Homo sapiens: one gene and its partners. The protein of the gene in region 1 purifies or fractionates together with the protein of each later gene. This does not show direct contact. Each region holds a gene or a part of one and is shown on either strand. Other genes may lie near its edges. The genes, in order: ASPM, CALU, RCN2, DNAJB2, KATNA1, TUBGCP3 and LIMS1.

The links.
Region 2: the proteins of ASPM (region 1) and CALU purify together in Homo sapiens (affinity purification with mass spectrometry; one large-scale study listed by BioGRID and IntAct). This does not show direct contact.
Region 3: the proteins of ASPM (region 1) and RCN2 purify together in Homo sapiens (affinity purification with mass spectrometry; 2 studies listed by BioGRID and IntAct, with this or other methods). This does not show direct contact.
Region 4: the proteins of ASPM (region 1) and DNAJB2 purify together in Homo sapiens (co-immunoprecipitation; one large-scale study listed by IntAct). This does not show direct contact.
Region 5: the proteins of ASPM (region 1) and KATNA1 purify together in Homo sapiens (pull-down; one study listed by IntAct). This does not show direct contact.
Region 6: the proteins of ASPM (region 1) and TUBGCP3 purify together in Homo sapiens (pull-down; one study listed by IntAct). This does not show direct contact.
Region 7: the proteins of ASPM (region 1) and LIMS1 purify together in Homo sapiens (affinity purification with mass spectrometry; one large-scale study listed by BioGRID and IntAct). This does not show direct contact.

The regions. Positions count from the first base shown.
Region 1 is NC_000001.11:197,136,670-197,140,169, reverse strand, and holds part of ASPM (abnormal spindle-like microcephaly-associated protein), read left to right. Parts: intron 1-298; coding exon 299-403; intron 404-862; exon of another isoform or gene 863-1,622; intron 1,623-3,500. UniProt on the Homo sapiens protein: Involved in mitotic spindle regulation and coordination of mitotic processes.
Region 2 is NC_000007.14:128,742,359-128,745,858, forward strand, and holds part of CALU (calumenin isoform a precursor), read left to right. Parts: intron 1-3,500. UniProt on the Homo sapiens protein: Involved in regulation of vitamin K-dependent carboxylation of multiple N-terminal glutamate residues. Seems to inhibit gamma-carboxylase GGCX. Binds 7 calcium ions with a low affinity.
Region 3 is NC_000015.10:76,941,749-76,945,248, reverse strand, and holds part of RCN2 (reticulocalbin-2 isoform a precursor), read right to left. Parts: intron 1,492-3,500; coding exon 1,378-1,491; intron 1-1,377.
Region 4 is NC_000002.12:219,284,881-219,287,395, reverse strand, and holds the end of DNAJB2 (dnaJ homolog subfamily B member 2), read right to left. Parts: coding exon 2,409-2,515; 3' UTR 1,410-2,408; coding exon of another isoform or gene 1,399-1,409; 3' UTR 501-1,398; downstream 1-500. UniProt on the Homo sapiens protein: Functions as a co-chaperone, regulating the substrate binding and activating the ATPase activity of chaperones of the HSP70/heat shock protein 70 family. In parallel, also contributes to the ubiquitin-dependent proteasomal degradation of misfolded proteins.
Region 5 is NC_000006.12:149,631,715-149,635,214, reverse strand, and holds part of KATNA1 (katanin p60 ATPase-containing subunit A1), read left to right. Parts: intron 1-2,298; coding exon 2,299-2,456; intron 2,457-3,500. UniProt on the Homo sapiens protein: Catalytic subunit of a complex which severs microtubules in an ATP-dependent manner. Microtubule severing may promote rapid reorganization of cellular microtubule arrays and the release of microtubules from the centrosome following nucleation.
Region 6 is NC_000013.11:112,553,654-112,557,153, forward strand, and holds part of TUBGCP3 (gamma-tubulin complex component 3), read right to left. Parts: intron 2,572-3,500; coding exon 2,399-2,571; intron 1,353-2,398; coding exon 1,234-1,352; intron 530-1,233; coding exon 404-529; intron 1-403. UniProt on the Homo sapiens protein: Component of the gamma-tubulin ring complex (gTuRC) which mediates microtubule nucleation.
Region 7 is NC_000002.12:108,673,970-108,677,469, forward strand, and holds part of LIMS1 (LIM and senescent cell antigen-like-containing domain protein 1), read left to right. Parts: intron 1-1,908; coding exon 1,909-2,059; intron 2,060-2,636; coding exon 2,637-2,729; intron 2,730-2,825; exon of another isoform or gene 2,826-2,961; intron 2,962-3,344; exon of another isoform or gene 3,345-3,500. UniProt on the Homo sapiens protein: Within the IPP (ILK-PINCH-PARVIN) complex, binds to F-actin, promoting F-actin bundling, a process required to generate force for actin cytoskeleton reorganization and subsequent dynamic cell adhesion events such as cell spreading and migration.

The DNA of each region.
Region 1 (3,500 bases):
TGCATATTCTCAGCACCTCGTAGAGAGTCTGGAATATACAGACACAATAAGTTTTGGTTGAATCTAGACTTTAGCCTCTGTAAACACAAAATAAATTGTGGTTTATGGTCTGTGACTTCTGGATGTTGGTTTGATAAACCACTGAATTCATAGCATTAGTGCGTGGAGTACAGTGGTTATTAAGTGTTTGCTAAATGAATATGATTGTGAAGAACCCAAACTTTAACTTTCAAATCACTGACCTATTTAGGGAATTTGTATTTTAATGCTCTTAGTTTTGTTTTCTAATTTATTTTAGATTTATCAATATTCAGAACTCCAATTTCTAAAACAAACAAAAGGACAAAACCCATTATCGCTGTGGCACAGTCCAGTTTGACCTTCATAAAACCATTAAAAACAGGCAAGTATTTATTATACTTAAACTCTCTGAAAACATGACATCGAATGAAGCATTAATTGCATTTCACATGGAAATGAATTGATTTTTGTTGTTGAATAACAGCCTGGAAGAATTGTTAAAGTGTGTATTAAAATGACAGGATATTGTGTCAACTTTCTGTTTGATAAAAGAAATAAAGACCAAATGTTCAATAGATCAGTAGGGTCACTATAGTAATTATTGTATATTTCAAAATAGCTAGAAGAGAATAACTGATGTTTCTAGCATAAAGAAAAGACAGATATTTGGACTGCGGGCACCCACGACCATGCCCGGCTAATTTTTTTGTATTTTTAGTGGAGACGGGGTTTCACCGTGTTGGCCGGGGTGGTCGGGCAATCTCCTGACCTCGTGATCCCTCCCCTCGCCTCCCAGGGTGCTGGGATTTCAGGCGTGAGCCACCGCGCCCGGCCAAAAACATGGGCTGTTATCCTTTGCTGTGGTAGGGAGTATGGATGAAGTGAAAGTTGGTAAAAGGATGGTCAGAGGCCGTCACTAGCCTTGGGGAGTTTTCCAAGTGGAAAATGAAAATCACTGTGACTTCGTTAAGCTCCAAGATATGCTTCTTTGTACCAATGTGGAAAATCTAAAAGAAAAACCTACACTCAGCACTATGAATGCTGTAGGTACCAAAAACTGCAGAAAATGGGCTTTACAGATCTGGGCCCAGACAACCAGCCAGTTAGTTTTCAAGAAATCTTTGAAGCCAAAAGACAAGAGTGCTATGATCAATGTCAGAGAGAAGAAGAGTTGAAACAGATTTATGCAGCGAGTCAAGGAGAAAGAAGCTGAAAAAGAGCTGCAGGACAAGTTCAAGCATCTTAAAATGATTCAACAGGAGGAGATAAGGAAGCTCGAAGAAGAGAAAAAACAACTGGAAGGAGAAATAATAGATTTTTTATAAAATGAAGGCTGCTTCTGAGGCACTGCAGACTCAGCTGAGCACCAATACAAAGAAAGACAAACATCGTAAGAAATAATCGTTTCTCTTAATTTTCTGTTTGAGAGCCCTATCATTCACATCCCAGCTTCCTGTGATTGTATTTGTAGCATTTAAATCTGATTGAAGTTCTTATTTTAAAAATTGGCTTGCTTATTGTATATTTTCCCTAACTAAAGTGTGAACTCCTAGTGGGGCGTGGTGGCTCATGCCTGTGATCCCAGCACTTTGGGAGGCTGAGGCAGGTGGACCATCTGAGGTCAGGAGTTCAAGACCAGCCTGACCAGGATGATGAGGCCCTGTCTCTGCTGGGAATACAAGAGTTGGCTGGGCTTGGTGGCCGGTACCTGTGGTCCCAGCTGCTTGGGAGGCTGGGAGAGTCACTTGGGCCCCAGAGGTGGAGGTTGCAGCGAGCCAGGTTCTTGCCATTGCACTCCAGCCTGGGCGACAAGGGCGGGACTCCATCTCAAGAAATAAAAAGGTGTGAACTCCCTGAAGACAGGTCCTGTGTCCATCTTTTCAGATTCTGTATCCTGGCACTTAGGATGTAGACTAACACGAAGATGACATTCAATCAATATTTGCCAAAATGAAAAAATAAACATGTAACATCATGTTAAAGGAGCAGTTTAGGTGGAGAAATTTCTTTACCATAGTCCTGCTTGTGGATCCAGTAGTGACTTTTACATTTTATATCTAAATAGAAGCTTGAGGCTTTGTTGGGGACTCATAGGCATAAAATATTATGTTATACAAATCTAATTAATAGGCCTATTTTCCTTTTTAAATTCTAATAATTTCTTGATAGTTTTTATTATGATAAAAGATTGGATTTTGATTAGAACTCTCATGCTTTTATGTCAGACTTAAAACTGATATTAGAATAAAGAATTCAAAAGCTAGAGAAAATCAGAGTACAATGAGAAGCCATGAGTTGCATTTGAATGATAATATTATGTCTTACAGATTTGGGGTATACGCTAAAGTTATCAAAGTTGTAAAAATAAGGCTGGGTGCAGTGGCTTACACCTGTGGTCCCAGCACTTTGGGAGGCCAAAGTGGGCGGATCACTTGAGGTCAGGAGTTTGTGACCTGCCCGGCTGGCATGGTGAAACCCCATCCCTACTGATAATGCAGAAGTTGGCTGGGCATGATGGTGTGCACCTGTAGTCCCTGCTACTCGAAAGGCTGAGGCGGGAGAGTCGCTTATACCCAGGAGGCAGAGGTGCAGTGAACAGAGATTGTGCCACTGCACTCCAGCATGAGTGACAGAGCGCTATGAGTCACTACACCTGGTATGAGCCACCATGCCCGGCCTACGATGACTTTTATACATGTTGTTAAATCATCTTACAGATTTTATAATTTGGGGGAAGAAAAATTTTACTAAATGGTCTTTTAATGGAAACTACAAGAACCAGAATCTTTGCTTTGTTCACTTAAGTGTCCATTCCTAGGCCTAGAACAATGTCTGACACATAGCGGCAATTATTCCTTGAATAAATGGACCCAGCAATAGTACATTAGCTATGCTATATGCATAAATTAAAAATGTAGATTATTGACTTTCAAAAAATAATTAATGTGACTTCTTACTGCTTCTGAACATGTTTGTGAGTTATATTGCTGAGGGACCTTTATCTTCTCATTCTTTCATCTTAATCCAATGTTATTAAAATTGAAATCACCAATATTATTCCATATCTAAAAATAATATCTACCTTATAAAAATTATCACTCTGCTGCATTTGAGAATAGACTTTTTAGGTAATAATAGTATGATCCATAGGGTTTTTTTAGGGCACAGAAGGATTCATGCTAACAGAACATTTTATTTTCTATTTTCCCAGAGCTATAAAACATGATATTATATGATAACTATAAGGCATATTTTTACTCTGTTCATATTTTTTCTAAAAAAAATTAGTGTTTGTTTCCCATATAACTTTTAATTTTATAAGTAAATATTTGTCTCTTTCAGCTCCAGTTTTATGTGAAATAGAGTTTCCAGATTTATGTAGCATGGAGAGTTTTAATAAGTCAGAGTTACTGATTTTTGCCAGTCATTTTCTCAGTTGTTAACTTCTTTTATCTTTAGTTGATTTTTTTTGTAGTGAC
Region 2 (3,500 bases), on another chromosome or scaffold:
TTCTGGTGAATATCCATCCAGCTCAGAGAACTGGAATTTTACTACCACACCCATTTCTCCCAATTGTTAACATTGAGCAATGGGTCTTTGGTCAACCATAATAACTGTTGGATCACTCAGTGTTAACGTTCTTGTGAAGTTGAATTTAAACATCTAAATTTCCCTGAAACAATTTAAGTATTCTGTGACCAATGGCACTTTACCAAAATTGAAAGTTTGGGCCATGTATTGCTCGCAATACTGGTCCAATGGATACACTATGGACACTAAGGACAAAAACTTCCTTGAAAGCTCTAAGTTCTTACCTGAAGGGTGGGGTAGGGAGAAGTGATAAGAATTTAGAGCTTTTAAGGACATTTTTGGATGGATCGAAGAAACCAATTCTTAAGACTCATTATTATTAAAATCACACTTAACCCAGTTAGGCTTTTCTCTTTATAAATTACTGGAACGATTCATGAAAACAACTTTATAGAAGACCATTATTGGTGACATACTAATACTACAAAAGGATGATAGCTACTGGATATATTTTCTGTTCTAATCTTTTGGTTTGTGTCTAACATGCTGTCCAATAAAAATATAATACAAGCCACATATGTAATTTTAAATTTTCAGGTGAAAATCTAAAACAGGTGAAAGTAATTTTAATAATGTTTAATCTAATACATATAAAATACCATTCTTTCAATATGAAATGTAACACTTATACCAATCGCAATTCACACTAGCCACATTTCAAGTGCTTAGTAGTCACATGTGGCTAGTGGCTACTGTACTGGGCAGTACAGGCCTAGATTTTTTTTTTTTCCCAAGAAAAAAATATTAGATGTTACCCTTCGTGGAAGAGGGACAGAATTTTAGAGAGAGAAACTCATTTGAGAAATGGGAGGTGGGGAAATTCAGTTTTCACAACCATTGGTTTACTTTCTAGATCACATGATAAAAGCTCATACAGCTAAGTCTTTTGTTTATGTGTATCATATTTTTCCTAATATTATGTTGTCCATTATGTCCATAGTATATCCATTGGACCAGTATTGTGATCAGTATGTATGGCCCAATGGATACACAAAGATCTTTCCAGCTGGAAGTGATCTGTACCTATTCCTCTAAACTTTTTTTTTACTTTTTGGACAAAAGTATCCAATTTAAACTTTTTTTTTTCTTTTTCTTTTTTTGAGACAGGGTCTTGTTCCCTCACCAAGGCTGGAGTGTGGTGGCATGATCATGACTCACTGTAACCTCGTGTCTCCGGGGCTCAGGCGATCCTCCCACTTCAGCTTCCCCGGTAGCTGGGACTATAGCTGCGCCACCACACCCAGCTAATTTTTTGTATTTTTGGTGGAGATGGGATTGCCTAGGCTGGTCTTGAACACCAGCATTCCATCCGCCTTGGCCCTCCAAAGTGCTGGGATTACAGGCTTGAGCCACTGCTGCTGGCCCAGTCTAAACTTTTATAAAGTGTTGAAGTGGGTGAGGAAAATGAGAAGGGCCATTAACTTTGTATCATTTGGTTTCAATTTGGTTGAAAAGACAAAGATGCTTCAGAAATGAAGTGTACTGGCTGGTCATGGTAGCTCACACCTGTAATCCCGACACTTTGGGAGGCCGAGACGGGAGAATCACTTGAGGTCAGGAGTTTGAGACCAACCTGGACAACATGGTGAAACCCTGTATCTACTAAAAATACAAAAATTATTCGGGCGTGGTAGACCATGCCTGTAATCCCAGCTATTGAGGAGGCTGAGGCAGGAGAATCACTTGAACCCAGGAGGTGGAGGTTGCAGTGAGCCAAGATCACACCACTGCACTCCATCCTGGGCAACAGAGACAGACTCAGTCTCAACAAAAGAAAACGAAGTGCACTAAAGTAGATTTTCAAATGCTGTGTATGAAGTTATTTTTTACTGTTCCTTTCACATCTTCCCACGTAAGATATCCTTTGTCTTAGATGTCCTTTGTTTCTGCTTGAACATACATGCTCCATACCAAAAACCATATGGTTTTAGATAAATCTAGTACAGTTTTTGGTATGGATGGTGTTTTTTGTTTTTAGTGTCTATATTCATAAAACAAGAGGGCTTTGTTAAAGTTTCTAATAGCCAGGAGTTGTTATATATGTGGGCACAAAGGACGTTTTGTTTTTTTTTAAGTAGAACTTCTTTAAAGTGCAGATTTTTCATTCCTCCCTGCAGAAAGATAAAGAAGTAAAGATGGACCATTGGCTTTGTCCATCTGGGTCCTTGATGACCGTTGTAGGCAGTTTCATCAATAGTAAGGAAGCCAGGTTTCAGGGTAGCATTGGACAGTGAGGAAGCAGAGGCAGCAGGGTAGAAACTGTGGGTGAGGGAAAGGGAGGAGCAAGCATGAAGGAACAGCACAGTCTGGGAAAGACTGTGGGTAGTGGAGACCTGAGAAGCACTGATTGACAGAATGGAGGAGCCTGTTTAAGGGATGAGATTGAAAGTTTATTCAGGAGAGGGGAAGGAAGGAGAAATGGGTGAGTGATAAAGCTAAATCACTTGGCTTCTACTCTTTGGAATTCTGGTATCCTTGTATCAAGATATTAAGCCTGAAACATAAATGTAGTTTTCCCTCTAAATCACAGAGTAAACCAATCTATTACATTTCTGTATGCTACATGTCTCAAAACTTGGTACAGTATCCTTTCCAGGACCAGATTATGTTAGAGTGCATAAGTATTTATTCATATTGTAATATTTGGGGTTGGCAAGAATTGTTAGGGTATTATGCTATATTTTATTTTGAGAATGTAATCATTTGTAAAATTTTCCTAAAGATAAAGTCCCCTTAGGCATAAGGAAAATCCTTTGTTGCAGTGACTCTTGATTTTACTTGATTCTGCAAGCCTCTGTCACTATACATATTGTTGGGATATATCCCAAAACATCAACAACATATAATTCTGTTTTTTGTTTCCAAAGTTTTGTTTATCTAAAGAATTATTTGTTTATAGGCTGGGTATGGTGGCTTACGACTGTAATCCCAGCACTTTGGGAGGCCAGGGCTGGAGGATCGCTTGAGACCAGTCTGGGCAACATAGTGAGACTCTACAACATTTTTTTTTTTTTAATTTGCTGTGCATGGTGGTACACACTTGTATTCCCAGCTACTTGGGAGGCTGAAGTGGGAGGATGGTCTGAGCCCCAGAGGACCAGACTGCAGTGAGCTATCATCACACCACTATATCTAGCCTGGGTGACAGAGTAAGACCCTGTCTCAAAAAAAGAATTGTTTATAGTTTGAGATAGAAGTTTCATTTTGCCCTGAAGTAAAGGCATACTCACTTTAATGTTGTATTTATAGAGCCGCTAAATCTCGGATTTTCTGTTTACTCTTTAACTGATTTGATTGATCAGTTGAATTATTGGAGGGTCAGCCAGAGTGTTGTTCACCCAGAGCAATATTTTACAAGTGGTGCACACAGAAAGCTAATAAACATGAGAGTGTGCTGTTCATACAAATTAGACAGTACA
Region 3 (3,500 bases), on another chromosome or scaffold:
CACTGAAGGTAACACAGTTATGAGAGAAAATAGCCTGAGGAAGCCTGCTGTTCATACATAGTACAGAGATTTAAAAATTCAGTCTTTCACCTTCTCCCTCCCAATAAGCAACTTCGTCACCACAAGAAAGCCTCCTTACCAAGCCTAATTTTAAGTGGGGAGAATGAGCATCATTTTAAATCTGTGTATCTCTTAAAATTCTGGTTATACAATTCATTTTAACAACTTAATGAACAGGTTTTAAAGTTTTGGTTACTTGGAAATGTAAATTCATACAACCACTATGGAGAACAGTTTGGAGGTTCCTCAAAAAACTAAAAATAGAGCTACCATATGATCCAGCAATCCCACTGCTGGGTATATACCCAAAAGAAAGGAAACCACTATGTCAAAGAAATATCTGCACTCCCATGTTTGTTGTAGCACTGTTCACAAAAGCCAAGATTTGGAAGCAACCCAAGCGTACATCAACAGATGAATGGATAAAGAAAATGTACATATACACAATGGAGTACTATTCAGTCATAAAAAAGAAAGAGATCCTGCAACAACATGTTGATCCACACAACAGCATGGATGAACTGGAGATCATATTAAGTGAAATAAGTCAGGCACAGAAAGACAAACATCCCATGTTCTCACTCATTTGTGGGATCTAAAAATCAAAACAATTGAACTCATGGACATAGACGGTAGAAGATGGTTACCAGAGACTGGGAAGTGTTGGGGGAGGGGGCGCTGAGAACAGTTAATGAGTACAAAAAAAACAGTAAGAATGAATAAGATCTATTATTTGACAGCATAACAGGGTTGACTATAGTCAGTAGTAACTAATTATACATTTTAAAATAACTAAAAGAGTGTTCACGGGATTGTTAGTAACACAAAGGATAAAAGTTCGAGGGGATGGATACCTCATTGTCTATGATCTGATTATTTCACATTGCATGCCTGTATCAAAACATCTCGGCCGGGCGCGGTGGCTCACGCTTATAATCCCAGCACTTTGGCAAGCCGAGGCGGGCGGATCACGAGGTCAGGAGATTGAGACCACGGTGAAACCCCGTCTCTACTGAAAATACAAAAAATTAGCCAGGTGTAGTGGCGGGCGCCTGTAGTTCCAGCTACTCAGAGAGGCTGAGGCAGGAGAATGGCGTGAACACGGGAGGCGGAGCTTGCAGTAAGCCGAGATCGCCCCACTGCACTCCAGCCTGGGCGACAGAGCGATACTCCGTCTCAAAAAAAAAAAAAAAAAAAAAAAAAAGTCTCATGTATCCCATAAACATATATACCTACTATGTACCCACAAAAATTTTAAATATATTTTTTTAAAGTTTTGGTCACTCAATAATTCTCTTAAAAATGTTTCTTTCTTACCGTCATATAATCAACTTCTTCAGGATGCTCAAAAGCAATAAATTCTTCAAGACTCAAACCGGGACCTGAATCCTGGTTAGCTTTTTCAAATCGCTTCTTGTCCTTTAAGTGAAGCTTTGAAAATTAAAATTTCTCATTAGTATACCACATCATTTTAAATACTTTGAAAAATACAAACTATGTGAAATTTAAAGTACATTCCCATCCGTTATCTCATTTATCTTCACATCGTCCCTTTGAAGGTAAGCTACACAAATACATGTATTAGGGGCAGGATAGACTCACAAGCTCTAGAGTCATATAGACCCAGACCTGAATTCCAGCAATGCCACTTACTAGCTGTGGTGTCAGCGCAAACTGCTTAACCTCTCTGGTTTCCTCATCTATCAAACTGGGATAAAAATCTCTAATAAGCAATTGGGATGAGAATCCCTACCACACCATTAATAAACCTTAAGTATTTAGTGTTATATACTATTATTGATAGAAAAGCAGATTGAATGATTTGATAAAAGTCAGAAATACAGCTAAAAAATACTGAGCATGGCATAGTGGCGCACGCCTGTAGTTCCAGCAACTTGGGAAGACTGCATGAGCCCAGAAGTTCAAGGCCAGCCTTCACACCATAGCAAGACCCTGACTCAAAAAACAAACAAAACTACTGAACTTGGATCCTCCCTATTCTTTCTACAGTACTATACTGTCTACTTTAATAATTAATCTCAATACTTTTTTGAATGCCCAAAAATCAATAACTTTATACCATGTATTAAATCTTGGTAGGGCTTTTAAAAAATGTTTCTGGTCCTCTAAGTGACTTTTCAAAAATACATTATTGTTTCAGAAAAACAGTCTTCTTATGTTGAGAATCTCATAATATTAGTATATGTACCTAATATTTGGAAATCTTTTCTTTTTTGGGGGGTGGGGAGATGAGGTCTCACTCCGTCATCCAGGTTGGAGTACAGTGGTGCAATCTCGGCTTACTGAAACCTCCACCGCCCAGGTTCAAGTGATCCTCCCACCCCAGCCTCCCAAGTAGTGGGGACCACAGGCATGTGCCACCACACCCAGCTAATTTTTTGTATTTTTGATAGAGATGGGGTTTCACTATGTTGCCCAGGCTGGTCTCAAACTCCTGAGCTCAGGCTATCCACCTGCCTCAGCCTCCCAAAATGCTGGGACTACAGGCATGAGTCACCGTGCTCAGCCTGGAAGTCTAGTCTTAGCAGGCTCTTTATAGTGTTAATTCTGTATATTCAGATATAAATAACATCAAAAGTTTAAATGGATCCCATGTTAAGGTTTAATAAACACATATCCTTTTCTACTTTCTCTCCCATCTTCCCATCCACCCCCCTTTTTAAAAATGATTCGGCAGCTATCAGGGACAAGGCTGCTTTTGATAAAATTTTCAATGGTAATTCTGTAACCAAGAGCCTTGGGAGCCAATAATGCTATACTGCTAATCCTGCATAATTTCTGTTTTGAGAATTTCTGGGAATAGCTTTCCTTCCTATAAACTGATATGTATTAAACTGTGCATTTTTTTAAAGCACAATTTCAAATATTTTAGAAGCTTTTAAGTGTTTCACTACTGAATAAAAATACCCTCTTCAGTCTTCTAGAATAATAGAGGTCAGGTAGCAGTCATTTACCTAAACACTAGTTCTTTTACAATTACTGATTTACAGCGGAGAGGCTCACCTCTTTCCCCAAAGAATTTGTTTTATTAACATCAGACTCTACAAGCCAGTTATATTCACCCAATCATGACAGAAAAGAAAAAATAATAACTTGTTTCCAAATAGCTTTTAACTTAATGTTTCAAAATTTTAAATAACTAGACCAAATAATTTGCATTTTATGTTCAGGTTTAACATGGTAAAAGCAGACAAACAAGAATTTGAGGTACTTTGCTGAGTCAATCAAGTTCTTTTTGAATAAACCATTATTCAAAATACCAAGTGCTTTGATTTCCTTATGAAAGAACCCTTCACTTTGGAGCAAAAAGGTCCATGTTTCAGGAGAAGAGCTAAATTTGGCCAAATTTGCCTATGGAAAGAAAGGATCTCTTTCAACAAGCTGAGATTTCTTTAAAAAAAAAAAAAGTGAAGGGGGTA
Region 4 (2,515 bases), on another chromosome or scaffold:
TTTTGTTGTTTTTTGGGGGGTTTTTTTTTTGGTATTTTTTTAAGTAGAGATGGGGTTTTGCCACGTTGGCCAGGCTGGTCTCAAACTTCTGGCCTCAAGTGATCTGCCCGCCTCAGCCTCCCAAAGTGCTAAGATTATAGGCGTGAGCCACCGCGCCCAGCCTCAGTTAAGTCTTAACTTGAGTATGGTCCTAGCTGTGCTGTGGAGTACTAGGGGGTGAGGCCACTCATAAGGGGAACATCGGCTGCTAGGGAAAGCCAGTTGTAGGCCCCCAAGAGGTGAAAGCAAAGAATGAAGCATTGCTTGGGGTTCCATAACATACCTGGGGAGGGCAGCCTGGTCAAAGAGGGCATTTCTGCCTTCAACTGGCAAGGCCTGCACCTCTAGCTGTAGGGGCATAAAGGGAGGTGTGAGGCCTGAGGTGTCACCCACTGTCCCTTAGAGGCCCTCCTGGGCCACCCCGGAAAGTAGGAACCCAAGAACACAACACACCACCAAGCTCTCAAAACTCAGTTTTATTGACTTCCAGCATTTCCCCCTGGATCTGAGCTCAGCCCAGCTGGTTTTGGTTCGTCTCTGAGGCTCAGTGTTACAGCGACTGGCTCCACCACTCCCCTCCCTGGCCACTGGGCTCCCCAGGCAGGGAGGAGGAGAGGCAGTTCATCTGTGATGTTGGAAAGAATGGGCAGCAGGGTCAGAGGCCAAAGAAAGCCATACAAGCAGCGGCATGCCTGGAGCTGCCATCACATGCCAAGCCCCACCACACACACGCCCCCGCGGGTGGCCTTGCCCTCGAAGCTCTCTGCCAGCCCACACTCCTCAGCTTTCTGGGGCCACACCCTGCTCAGGCAGACATGCCACTCGCCCTGGCTTGTTCCTGGGACCCCAGGCTGCCCAAGGGAAAGGTACCGCTCCCAGGTGCTGCGCGGCTCTGCCCTGCCCACTCTAACCCTGGGGCTAGCAAGACGTGTCAGGGGAACCAAGGCTCAGATCATTCCCCCTTCATCTACAACCCTGCCAGCCCTACAGGGATAAATCAAAAGACAAAATCTCCCCATCTCACAGCGAGTGACAAGCCGACCTGGGCTACTACATGTCCCAAGATGCACAGCTCCGTAACCATACACCACCTCCCCCAAGCGGGATCTATCAGAAATGAGGCCGGGCACACCGCACTCTGGGATTTGTAGTCCCCAGGAGCCAGCACCAAACACCCAAGGAAGAGAGTGCACAGGCTAAGACTACTGCCACCTCCCACCCGGCCCCCACCCGCCACCCAGGCCCCGGCTCTACACTCAGCATGGGTGAGGGGGAGAAATGGAGGGTCCCCTCCCAGCGCATGGGGGAAGGCGCTGTCCTGTTGGAACTGTGCAGCGATTCTGGAACCCGGCATCCAGCTCAGAACACATCTGGGGAGAGAGCAGGGGCGGGGTGACAGGAGAGAGCGTCAGCGGCAAGCTGTGGAGGATGGGGCTCAGCATGCAGACCTGGGCTGGCCGCATGGCCTCTCCCTGAGCCCTGATTTGTGGTAGGGAAGCAGTATGGGTGCAGTCCCCTCCTAGGCCTCCCTCTGGGGTCCCCCGGTCCTATCCCACCTCTTCAGGGTGAGCCAGCCTCACCTCTGCCTAGTCCTGAGGGTGAGGGCAGGCTGAGGCAACGAGAGGGAGGAGGAGTGGGCTCCAGTTCTGAATCTGGACAGCTGAGAGGCTCCCGCCCCACCCGGCTAGCCTCCCCAGAAGATCTCACAGCCCTACCGGCCCCAGCATCTTCCTCGCCACATTGAGGCCTTCTCGGGGAAGGAAGGAAGAAGGGAGTCCTAGCCAGACGGCAGTGAAAGCAAGCGATGCGGCCCGCAGGGAGTTGCAGAGAGAATGGGAGGGAGGAGAAGCAACACCAGAAGAGAAGCAACAGAGACGGTCAGAGCGCAACATGGCACAGAAACCAGGGTTGGGGGTCTGCAGCTGGTCCAGGAGAGCAGGAGGCTCCACTCTGCCTGCACTGCTCTCCAGTGGAGCTGCCGGCTCCGGCTCAGACAACCCTAGGCCAAGTCCTCCTTCCTTGACACCATCAGCAACACAGGTGGCAGAGTACCAGGGCACAAAAGGCCCAGCCCAAACCACTAATGCCCCTTGGAGCTCCCCATCCAATAAATGCAACCTGGCTCCTCGGGCCCCTCCACTGCCCTGACACCCCCCACCCTGGGCTTCACCAGGGACCTATCAGCCCTGGGCTGAGCACAGCAAATCCCAAGTCCACACTGGGGTGTGGGGGGCCTGGGAGGGAAACTTGTGGAGGGAGCTTGGAGTTGGAAAGCAGTTCCTACAACTCAGGATACTCCCCTCTTCTCTTCCCACAGTGAGTCAGACCCCCCAGTCAAGATCTGGATCAGATCAGGTTGGGCCCGGTGTTCAGAGGATGAGGCAGCGAGAGGCCTTCTCCTCTGGGGATGGACTGCGTTTGGTTGCTTCACCCCTCGCACCCTCCTGGGTCCCCCCCAAGCCTGGATCTTGGTGCT
Region 5 (3,500 bases), on another chromosome or scaffold:
GCCTTAACTCCTCAGGCTCAAGCAATCCTCCCACCCAGCCTCCAGAGTAGCTGGGGCCACAGGCACAAACCAACATGCCTGGCTTATATTTTTTTTAGAGATGGGTTATTGTTATGTTGCCCAAGATTAGTTTTTAAATTGCGTCAAGATTCCTTTTCTCTTTTATTTTTGAGGTGGAGCCTTACTCTCAAAACTAGGGCCATTTTACTGCATTCCAGACTGGATGACAGAATGAGACCCTGTCTCTAAAAAATATTTGAAAAAAAAAAAAAAGACTGCTTTTAAAAAAATACCTTGGTTGCATATGAATTGAGACCTATTTTAGTCTGTAGGTTGTGACCCATTAGCCATAAAATTAGTATATTCTGATCAGTGTTGTATTGATTTTTAGAAATTATTTACTGATATATAATAGTTGTACATATCTTGGGCATACACATTATATTTTGATTCCTGTATACAATATCTAATGATCAAATCAGGGTAATTGGGATTAATCAGCATTTTAAAAGTTAATTAAACAGAATAAAAATTATCAAAGTAGGGCTGGGCATGGTGGCTCACACCTGTAATCCCAGCACTTTGAGAAGCTGAGGTGAGAGGATGGCTTGAACCCAGGAGTTTGAGGTTATGGTGAGCTATGATCGTGCCACTGTAGTACAGCCTGGGCAACAGAATGAAACCTTGTCTCTAAAACATAAAAATAAAAGTTTGACAAAAATGAAACTTTCACAAGTTGTGCTTTGATGGTTTTTTTTCCCCCTTGGGCTCAAGCAATTCTCTCACCTCAGCCTCTAAAGTAGGCAGGACTACAGGCATGGGCCACCATGCCCAGCTAATTATTCTTGTAGAACTTTAAAGTTATGCCTAACTTTTCAATTTGTTATGCAATTTATTTTATTTTATTTTATTTTATTTTATTTTATTTTATTTTATTTTTTTGAGATGGAGTCTTGCTCTGTTGCCCAGGCAGGAGTGCAATGGTGCGATCTCGGCTCACTGCAACTTCCGCCTCCTGGGTTCAAGCGATTGTTGTGGCTCGGCCTCCCAAGTAGCTGAGATTCCAGGTGCCCGCCACCACACCCAGCTAATTTTTGTATTTTTAATAGAGATGGGGTTTCAACATGTTGGCCAGGCTGGTCTTGAATGCCTGACCTCAGGTGATCTGCCCTCCTTGGCCTCCCAAAGTGTTGAGATTACAGGTGTGAGCCACCGCGCCTGGCCTGTTATGCAATTTATTTATTTATTTATTTATTTGAGCCGGAGTTTCACTCTTGTTGCCCAGGCTGGAGTGCAATGGTGTGATCTCCGGCTTGCCGCAACCTCCGCCTCCCAGGTTCAAGCGATTCTCCTGCCTCAGCCTCCCGAGTAGCTGGGATTACGTGCATGTGCCACCACACCCGGCTATGCAATTTAAATAAGAATATAAATTAGTAGTATGATTTAGTTAGCCTGGATTTTTTTTTTATTTTTTATTTTTTTGAGACAGATTCTTGCTATGTTGCCCAGGCTGGAGTGCAGTGGCGTGATCTTGGCTTTCTGCAACCTCCATCTCCTGGGCTCAAGAGATTCCCCTGCCTCAGCCTCCCAGGTAGCTGGGCCTGTAGGTGCCTGCCCCCATGCCTGGCTAACTTTTTGTATTTTTAGTAGAGATGGGGTTTTTACCATGTTGGCCAGGCTTGTCTCAAACTCCTGAGCTCAAGTGATCCATCTACCTCAGCCTCCCTAAAGTGCTGGGATTACAGGCGTGGATGTTTCCTATCCTGGATGTTTTAATTCATTTTATCAGAATTAATTTTGCAATTGAGGGCCGAGCGCAGTGGCTCACGCCTGTAATCCCAGCATTTTGGGAGGCCTAGGCGGGTGGATCACGAGGTCAGGAGATCAAGACCATCCTGGCTAACATGGTGAAACCCTGTCTCTACTAAAAATACACAAAATTAGCCAGGCGTGGTGGCGGGCGCCTGTAGTCCCAGCTACTCGGGAGGCTGAGGCAGGAGAATGGCCTGAACCCAGGAAGCAGAGCTTGCAATGAGCCGAGAGTGATCACGCCACTGCACTCCAGCCTGGGCGACAGAGTGAGACTCCATCTCCAAAAAAAAAAAAAAAAAAAATTGCAATTGAAAACATAAATTTAATAAACTGTTATTAACATTTTGATAGAATATCTTGATGTGGTTTACTGGATATCTGATATCAAAATGGAGTTTTGTAACATCTCTAGTAAATGGCCCTCATTTAATTTTGACAGTGATATATTATAGAAATTTAAACATCCATCTTCTTCTTTGAAATCAGGTTTGGCAGGAAATAAATGTGGAAGCTAAACATGTTAAAGATATCATGAAAACACTAGAGAGCTTTAAACTGGACAGCACTCCCTTGAAAGCGGCACAGCATGACCTTCCAGCTTCTGAGGGAGAAGTCTGGTCCATGCCTGTACCTGTTGAACGAAGGTAAGTGGAAACCTTTTAAGAAACCAGTTATCCCAAGAAGCTTATAGCATTGATTATATTTAGGAGGAGGATGGGGTGGCTGAGAGACAGGAATGGGAGGGAGTTTTCTTTACTGAACGTTCTCTCTTTTATAACTCACTGGTCTTGAACCTTGTGCCTTTTTGACCTATTTCAAAAAATAAGATTTAGGTAGGAATAATTTAAAAATATGCTTTTGTGAATGACCTTACAGTGGTAGAGACAGTGTTATCTTGTGGAAGGAGAATGGGGTTAGGAATTGAAATATCCAAGCTCCGTGTCTGTCTTTGCCACTCTCTGTAGCTTTGGGAAAATAATAAAACCTTTTTAGGCCTCAGATTTTTCTTTTTTTTCTTTTTTTTTTTTTTAGACAGAGTCTCACTCTGTCACGAGGCTGGAGTGCAGTGGCACGATCTCGGCTCGCTGCAATCTCTGCCTCCCGGGTTCAAGTGACTTCCCTGCCTCAGCCTCCTGAGCAGCTGGGACTACAGGCACACACCACCTGTATTTTAGTAGAGACGGGGTTTCACCATGTTGGCCAGGCTGGTCTCGTTCTCCTCACCTCGTGATCCACCTGCCTCAGCCTCCCAAAGTGCTGGGATTACAGGCCTGAGCCACCGTGCCCAGCCAGGCCTCAGATTTTTCTTACGCAAAGAGAGGAAGTTAGACTAACAGTGGTTCTCAAACAGGGATCACAGAATACTTCTTTTCATCAAGCTATAATGAAAAATGGAAAATTTTTCTAAATTTGCTAAAATTGAAAAAATTGGCTTTTTAATTCATAGAGAACAGTAAAAATAAAATGTTCTGAATTTTAGGGTTTTCTCTGGCTTTTTTTCCCCAACTTCCTACTACCAAGTGCCAGCAGATGAACAACTAGTGATACTGATATTTACTGAAATACTGTAACTAGCCAATCATGCATAGTTTTACTGCACATTTTTCAACTGACAAGTGTGCAGGTGGATGTTATCTATTTCACTTACATAATAGATTTCCTAGTTTGTATTATAGATTTAAATATTG
Region 6 (3,500 bases), on another chromosome or scaffold:
GTGCTGCCTGGGGAATCACGCAGCTGGGAGTGTCCCCTGTTGGCAGGCCCCGTCCCAGCAGGGCCCCTCCTCAACCTTCTGGAGGAGGCAGCAGCAGCTGGGCAGGGCCCCCTTCGAGCGTTTGGAATCGGGCAATGCCAGCTCCCCATGGCCAGCTCTGTCTCACCATTTTCTCTGTATTTTACAGTCCTCCAGCAGTTCCTGAGCCAACCTGCTGTATTCAGTGTCCTCATCAGCACCTACTGTGGTTTCTACTGTCTTGAGTGGACCCTGAAAGTTGACTCTCAAAGCTGCTTTACTTGGAAAGAGCCTTAGAAGGAGCTATTTCACAGTAAGATTTCAACTAGAGTAAGCGTTTCCCAAAGTGCGCAGCATCCCAGCATCCTAGGAACCATGAACGCACCTGCCCGACGAGTCCGAATGAGCGGTCCAGGCTCCTCTGGTCCGTGTATCTTCTGATTTTATTATGCAACCATCCCAACTCAGAAAGCCTGACTGCTGTGTCTCTCAAAGACCTACTTAGATTTGCCTAAAAAGTAAATACATCAAATGTTAAACATTAAAAAGCAATACTAGAGCTTTAATTAGTATTTTTCTCAAGCACTTCTACTTTTAATACTATAATCCTTAGGCTTCAAGACATAAAAGTTAAAACTAAGATCCCATCACTAAAGGGAAGGAAAGCACATTAAGTGACAGCATGATGGAAAGCACCTCAAAGGGCATGGTGAGCTCATTTCACACCACCCTGCAGTTGGCCTGCGGTGTGGCAGAGAAGGTCTGTGATCTCAGCCACGCTGTGAAAGGGCTAAGAGCCACAGTGTGACCCACACCACAAGAAATGGGCATGGTAAAGGCAGATTATGGAAAAAGGAAACAAAAGTGGGTGAAGACCCCTGACCTGGAATCCTGCATCAATGCCGAAGGTGCCAAGGGACCTCTGTCCCCTGGGTGCCTCAGCCATCACACAGCAGGATGCAGAAATCAGCTATGGGGCAGCCCCATCAGTAGACGTGAGGAAAGGAGGCACACATTAATCACAAAGGGTCCCCATAACAAAACTGAACGAGCCACAATGGACAGAAATAGAAACCAGAATTCCACAGTGCAATTTCACCTCACAACCGATTCGCAAAACCCCAGTACCACCTTATCAATCAACAGCCACTATCTGGACTTCATGACATGTTTTTTCTTTCTGAATATTTTAACTTAGATTTTATGTTACTGTACCTTTCCTTCTACTTTGTAACAATTTTCAGTGTTGTTCATTTTGATGTTTTTGCCATCTATGCCCTGAAAGACGTACAAAATGTCCCTTACCAGAGCTGCTTCTGTAATTTCCATAGTACCTGCAAAATCATTTTTTAAAGACAGTAATTACTAGACAATATTTTAACAGACAATAGATATTATGGTGCAATTAGCTTCAGATTAGATATTTGCCACCCCGATGAAATTTACTAACTCAATAAATAAGCTCAAGATGAAAAAGAGTATGAGATTAGAAAGAAACAAGGCGAGTCTCAGTCTAGAGGTTGGCCTGCTGTGCCATGAACGCACAGCTGTCAAACACGACATGAATCTGCAGCTGTGGACAGAGGCTGGACGCGGGAGCCACACACAGGGACAGGCGGAGTGGGGCAGATGGTGGAGACTACTGCGGGGGCTAATACTGTGCCAGGATGTCCTCCAGCTCTCAGATGCTCCTCACCTTTGCATTCTACGCAAGGACAGGTACAGGTAACATCCAGAGCCATTTCGTAATCAGCAGATTACGAGCCAACAGGGAAACCCAATCCTCTGTTTTCAGGACACTCATGTTTCAAATGCTGCTAACTGTAGTGTTCTCAATAAAGAAACTCAAGCTTCCTTTTGGAATCTAGCAGGGCTTTAAAACCCTCCATGAGGTATTCATCTCACCATTCAGTAATTCCTCAATGACTCTCTTCGACGTGCCAGGCACTGTGCTGAGCACTGGCACCATAAATGAAAAGACATAGCCCCTCTGTGGCCTTAAGACTTTGGTAGAAGAAGGTGACTTTTACTGGGGGCCTAACCCAGCCTTAAAGACTTTCCCAGGGAAACGGCAGGATGAAAACAGACAGGGAGAATGTGATGAGGAACAGCAAAGACGAGAGATGTGGAGGGAGGAGGCCACATGGAAAAGCAGCCAAAAAGCAGACTGTGCTGGGAGGAAAAAGCCCAGGTGGCCTGGGGTGAAAAGCCAAACTCCCCAAGGCGCCGCAGACCACCAGGGACTCTGGACTTCATCATAAGAACAAGAAGAAACCACTAAAAGGTTTGAGGTGGGGCTCCTGGGCTGTACTTTAAAATAAGGAGAGGCTGAATTCCAAGTGTTCACAGAAAAGCTGTATTAACATAGATCCTTACTCACCACCCGTATCCCCTTCTCTCCTGGACCTTGTCATGTTGCGAGACACAGCACTGGGGACACCTTTTGAGGTAGTGGCTTGTGAAGAAGGCTGATTTGCAGTTAAAGTCCATGCGAGTCGTGACCCCAACTGCTGTCGAAGGCAATCTCCTACTCCTGGAGCTTGATTAGACTGTCTAAAAAAAGAAACATGTATTATCTTCTAATAGGCTATTCGCTGAAGAGACAAAAGTGTCCCTAGAAATTTCTCTTGTATTACTATCGTGAATTACATAAATTTATAAATCTGGTATAGCTGATACCATGACTTTACCCTAACCGAATATATCAATAACAGACAGTCCCAAGTCCCTTGAACTTGGTCAAGCCTCCTTGCGACCCTTGGCCTAGCATTCGGACCCAACACAGCAGTGGAAAAATCATCTTACTGCTACCTTACAATATATATTTCTTACCATTAATATCAAAATCTATTTGGCTTTTCTTTATAAACATATAACATACCTTACCCACCCCATAACCACTTTGAAATTCTCTACTTATTTTAACTTCAAAATCCACAACTCTCGTTCACTCCCCATGTACTGAGCAGAGGAATCGAGTCACTGTGACACTGCCCCAGGCGCCTGGCCTCACCTGTCTTCAGCCTTCAGAGTGCTCACTATGAAAAGAAACTGCAATTTTCAATTAACTGCTAAAGTATACAAACGTATAAAATCTAAGGCAAATGCATATTCAAGGTCAAGATGGCTTGTCAGCAATTTTGAGACTATGTCAAAGTTGTTTTTTGAAAAATGTAAGAACCTCATAGCTGATTTCTAATAGCGTCAGTTTTGACAGGTGCAACAAAAATATCACTTCCTGGGACTACAAAACACAAAAATGAGAACCTCAGCTGCTCTACAGTTTCCAGGTGCCAGAGCTTGGATTTAGTACTGGTGCAATACTGGGGGGGTTTATCCATAATCCACTCGTGAAGTAAGGAGAACAGGAAAGAACTGAAACAGTTCTTATTTTATTCCATTTTCATCAGGAGAGAAGTCAACAACATTCACTAAAACTATGTCTCTGGGCATAGTTCTAAATTTAAGAGGATGATTCTAAA
Region 7 (3,500 bases), on another chromosome or scaffold:
GTTATGATAAATTGTTGGGCTATGAATTTTTCTCAGTTTGCTGCCTAGTATAAAAATTTAGTGGATAAAGATTCTTGGCCGGGCGTGGTGGCTCACACCTGTAATCCCAGCACTTTGGGAGGCCGAGGCGGGCAGATCACGAGGTCAGGAGATCAAGACCATCCTGGCTAACACGGTGAAACCCCGTCTCTACTAAAAAATACAAAAAAAATTAGCCGGGCACGGTGGCGGGTGCCTATAGTCCCAGCTACTTGGAAGGCTGAGGCAGGAGAATGGCAGGAACCCGGAAGGCGGAGGTTGCAGTGAGCTGAGATCGCACCACTGCACTCGAACCTGGGAGACAGAGCGTGACTCCATCTCAAAAAATAAAAATAAAAAAATATTCTTTACTGTAGTTAATGTGAACTTACTTGCTAAATTATAGTAGGGATGGAGAAGAAACAGTAAGCCAAATACTAAGAAAACAGTTTGGGCCAGGTGCAGTGGCACACGCCTGTAATCCCAGCACTTTGGGAGGCCGAGGCGGGTGGATCACGAGGTCAGGAGATCGAGACCATCCTGGCTAACATGGTGAAACCCCATCTCTACTAAGAATAAAAAAATTAGCCAGGCGTGGTGGTGGGTGCCTGTAGTCCCAGCTACTCGGGAGGCTGAGGCAGGAGAATGGCATGAACCTGGGAGGTGGAGCTTGCAGTGAGTGTGGATCGCGCCACTGCACTCCAGCCTGGGCAGCAAAGCAAGACTCGTCTCAAAAAAAAAAAAAAAAAAAGAGAAAGAAAGAAAACAGTTTGGTTGTATAAGTTCAGCCATCTCATCTTTTGTGATTGAATTATCAGTTTGTGCCTTATCTCGTTTTCTTGCCTGTCCTTCCTCTTGGGGATTCACCTCTGTCCACTTTTCATTAGCATCTCTCCTAGAGAATTACATAAAAGGGATGAAATTCAAACAAGTCCGTTTGACTAATTGGGACCATCTCTGACCAAATGTTTATTGATGCAGGAGACTGAAAATAATATTTAATTTGAGTATTTGGAGAAGGAAAATTCTGGGCATTTTGTTGTTTATGAAAATAAACCTATTAACCTATAACTATTTTCAACAGCTTGTGACAATTTAAATAATTGTTAGTAAATGGAACTAGTCTCCCAACTTCTCAGTTTGCTTGGAAAGGTCGTGTGTTAGTCTATTTTATGCGCCTGTAACAGAATACCACAAACTGGGTAATTTGTAACCAACAGAAGTTTATTTGGCTCATGGTTCTGGAGGCTGGGAAGTCCAAGATCAAGGGGCTGGCATCTGGTGAGGACCTTCTTCTGCATCATTACATAGCAGAGGGCATCACATGGTGGGGGAAGAGGAGGGGGGAAGGAAGAGAAGGAAGGAGGCTGAACTCGTCCTTTTATAAGGAACCCACCCCCTCAGTAACAGCGTTAATCCATCTGTGAGGGCAGAGCCTTCATGATGTAATCACCCCTTAGAGGTCCTACCTCTCAACACCTCAGAATTGGGGATCATGAACTTTGGGGACACAGTCACACCATAGCAGATAGTATTACTGAGTCTACCCTCAGCACTGTGATTATTCCCTGTAGCTTTTAGAGGAAGACAAATGGACTAAAATGTAATGTGATAATATAAGAAGGAAATTATGAATATGACTGGTGTGGTGGTATGTATCTGACCTAGTCTTGCATCTTATCCTTTTAAGATACAGATGTTTTGGTAGGAGTCTGAAACCTGTTCAGGCCTATTAATTCAGGTTATTCTGATCACCTCTAAAGGGGAAAAAAGAAATTTGCAGGGATTGTCATAGTAATGTCTTTAAAAACCTTCTAAAAAGTGTGCTAGCCCCATTGGTTGGCCACTTTTCTCTCTTAGTATTAAGCTGTGTGTCTTTCTCACGGACAGGAAGGAGCTGACTGCCGATGCACGGGAGCTGAAAGGGGAGCTATACTGCCTCCCATGCCATGATAAAATGGGGGTCCCCATCTGTGGTGCTTGCCGACGGCCCATCGAAGGGCGCGTGGTGAACGCTATGGGCAAGCAGTGGCATGTGGAGGTGAGTTCTAAATGGCAAAGGGTAACCAATCCTTTCAAATCTCCATGATTAAGGGGTAACCAATACTTTCAGATCTCCCATGATTCAGGGGTAACCAGTACTTTCAAATCTTCATGATTCAGGTGTCCTGGCAAGATTAGGAGACTCTAAAGATTAAACGTGGACATTTTAAAGACAATTGACTTTGCTGACAGCTAAGAATATATAATGTACACTGCTTTTGTGAATGTCTCAGTAATGATACAGGATGTGTACTTTTGCTCCTAAAGCCTTCTTGAAGCAGGAAGTGCCATGGTCTGTATCCAGCAGCAGCTCCTCCTTTATAGGTGCTACTGAGATGCTCACCTCTATTCTCTTTTTGGGCTATTATAATAGGCTATGTCTTAAAGTAACCTTCAAAGACAGACACCTGAATTACAACTGCAGAAGTATTATATTATGGGGCCACCTATGGCCAAATGAAATGACTGTCTCAAACTTTCCTTCATCTTCTCTGAAAATAGGTTAACTCTGGTATTTACTTTATTAGATATAAAATATGGCAATTCAAAAATGACCTATAGCAATTTTTTTTCAGCATTTTGTTTGTGCCAAGTGTGAGAAACCCTTTCTTGGACATCGCCATTATGAGAGGAAAGGCCTGGCATATTGTGAAACTCACTATAACCAGGTATTGACCTTAGTCACTGGATGCTAGATAGACTTTTATGAACCTAAGCTTATCAGTAGTTTAGCTACAAGGAAATCTCTTGGAAGATGTACATTGTTCAGTAGAGATTTGTTTTTAACTTTTTATTTGGGAAATAATTTCAGACTCAGAAGCTAACTATAAAATATACAAAGAATACCTGTATGTCTTTCATTCAAGTCCACAGTTTGCTTTATCATTTCCCAAGCTCAGTCTTCCTGTGTAAAACACATAGTTACGTAAATATTATATACAAGTACGATGGCTGTTTTGCCAATAAGTTCATCATACTCCTTTATCCCTAAATACTTCAGTGTATATTTCCCAAGAATATGGGACTCTCTAACATAATTGTAGTTATCAATATTGATACCGTACTCTAACCATTTATTCCAGTTTTGTCACTTGAGTCAATATCCTCACAGCATTTTTTCCACTCCCAGACTGGACCCAGCCTCTGGCTGTGATGTTTCTTTAGCCTTCTTAAATCTGGAACGTTTCCAGAGTCTTTTAAAATTTTTGATGACATTGACATTTTGGAGGGATGCAGAGGGCCCCTAACCCCTTTTTAATAGACTACTTTCCACTTGGGTTCACCTGGTGCTTCTCTGTGCTTAGATGAGGTTATACACAGCAGGTTGTGGCCTCATACAGTGGCAGGGCATCTTCTCAGAACCTTGCCCCTGGAGCATTTTATACCTCTCCTGCCCTGGTGATCTCCCAGGCATGGTGCTGGCTGATAACATCACTGTG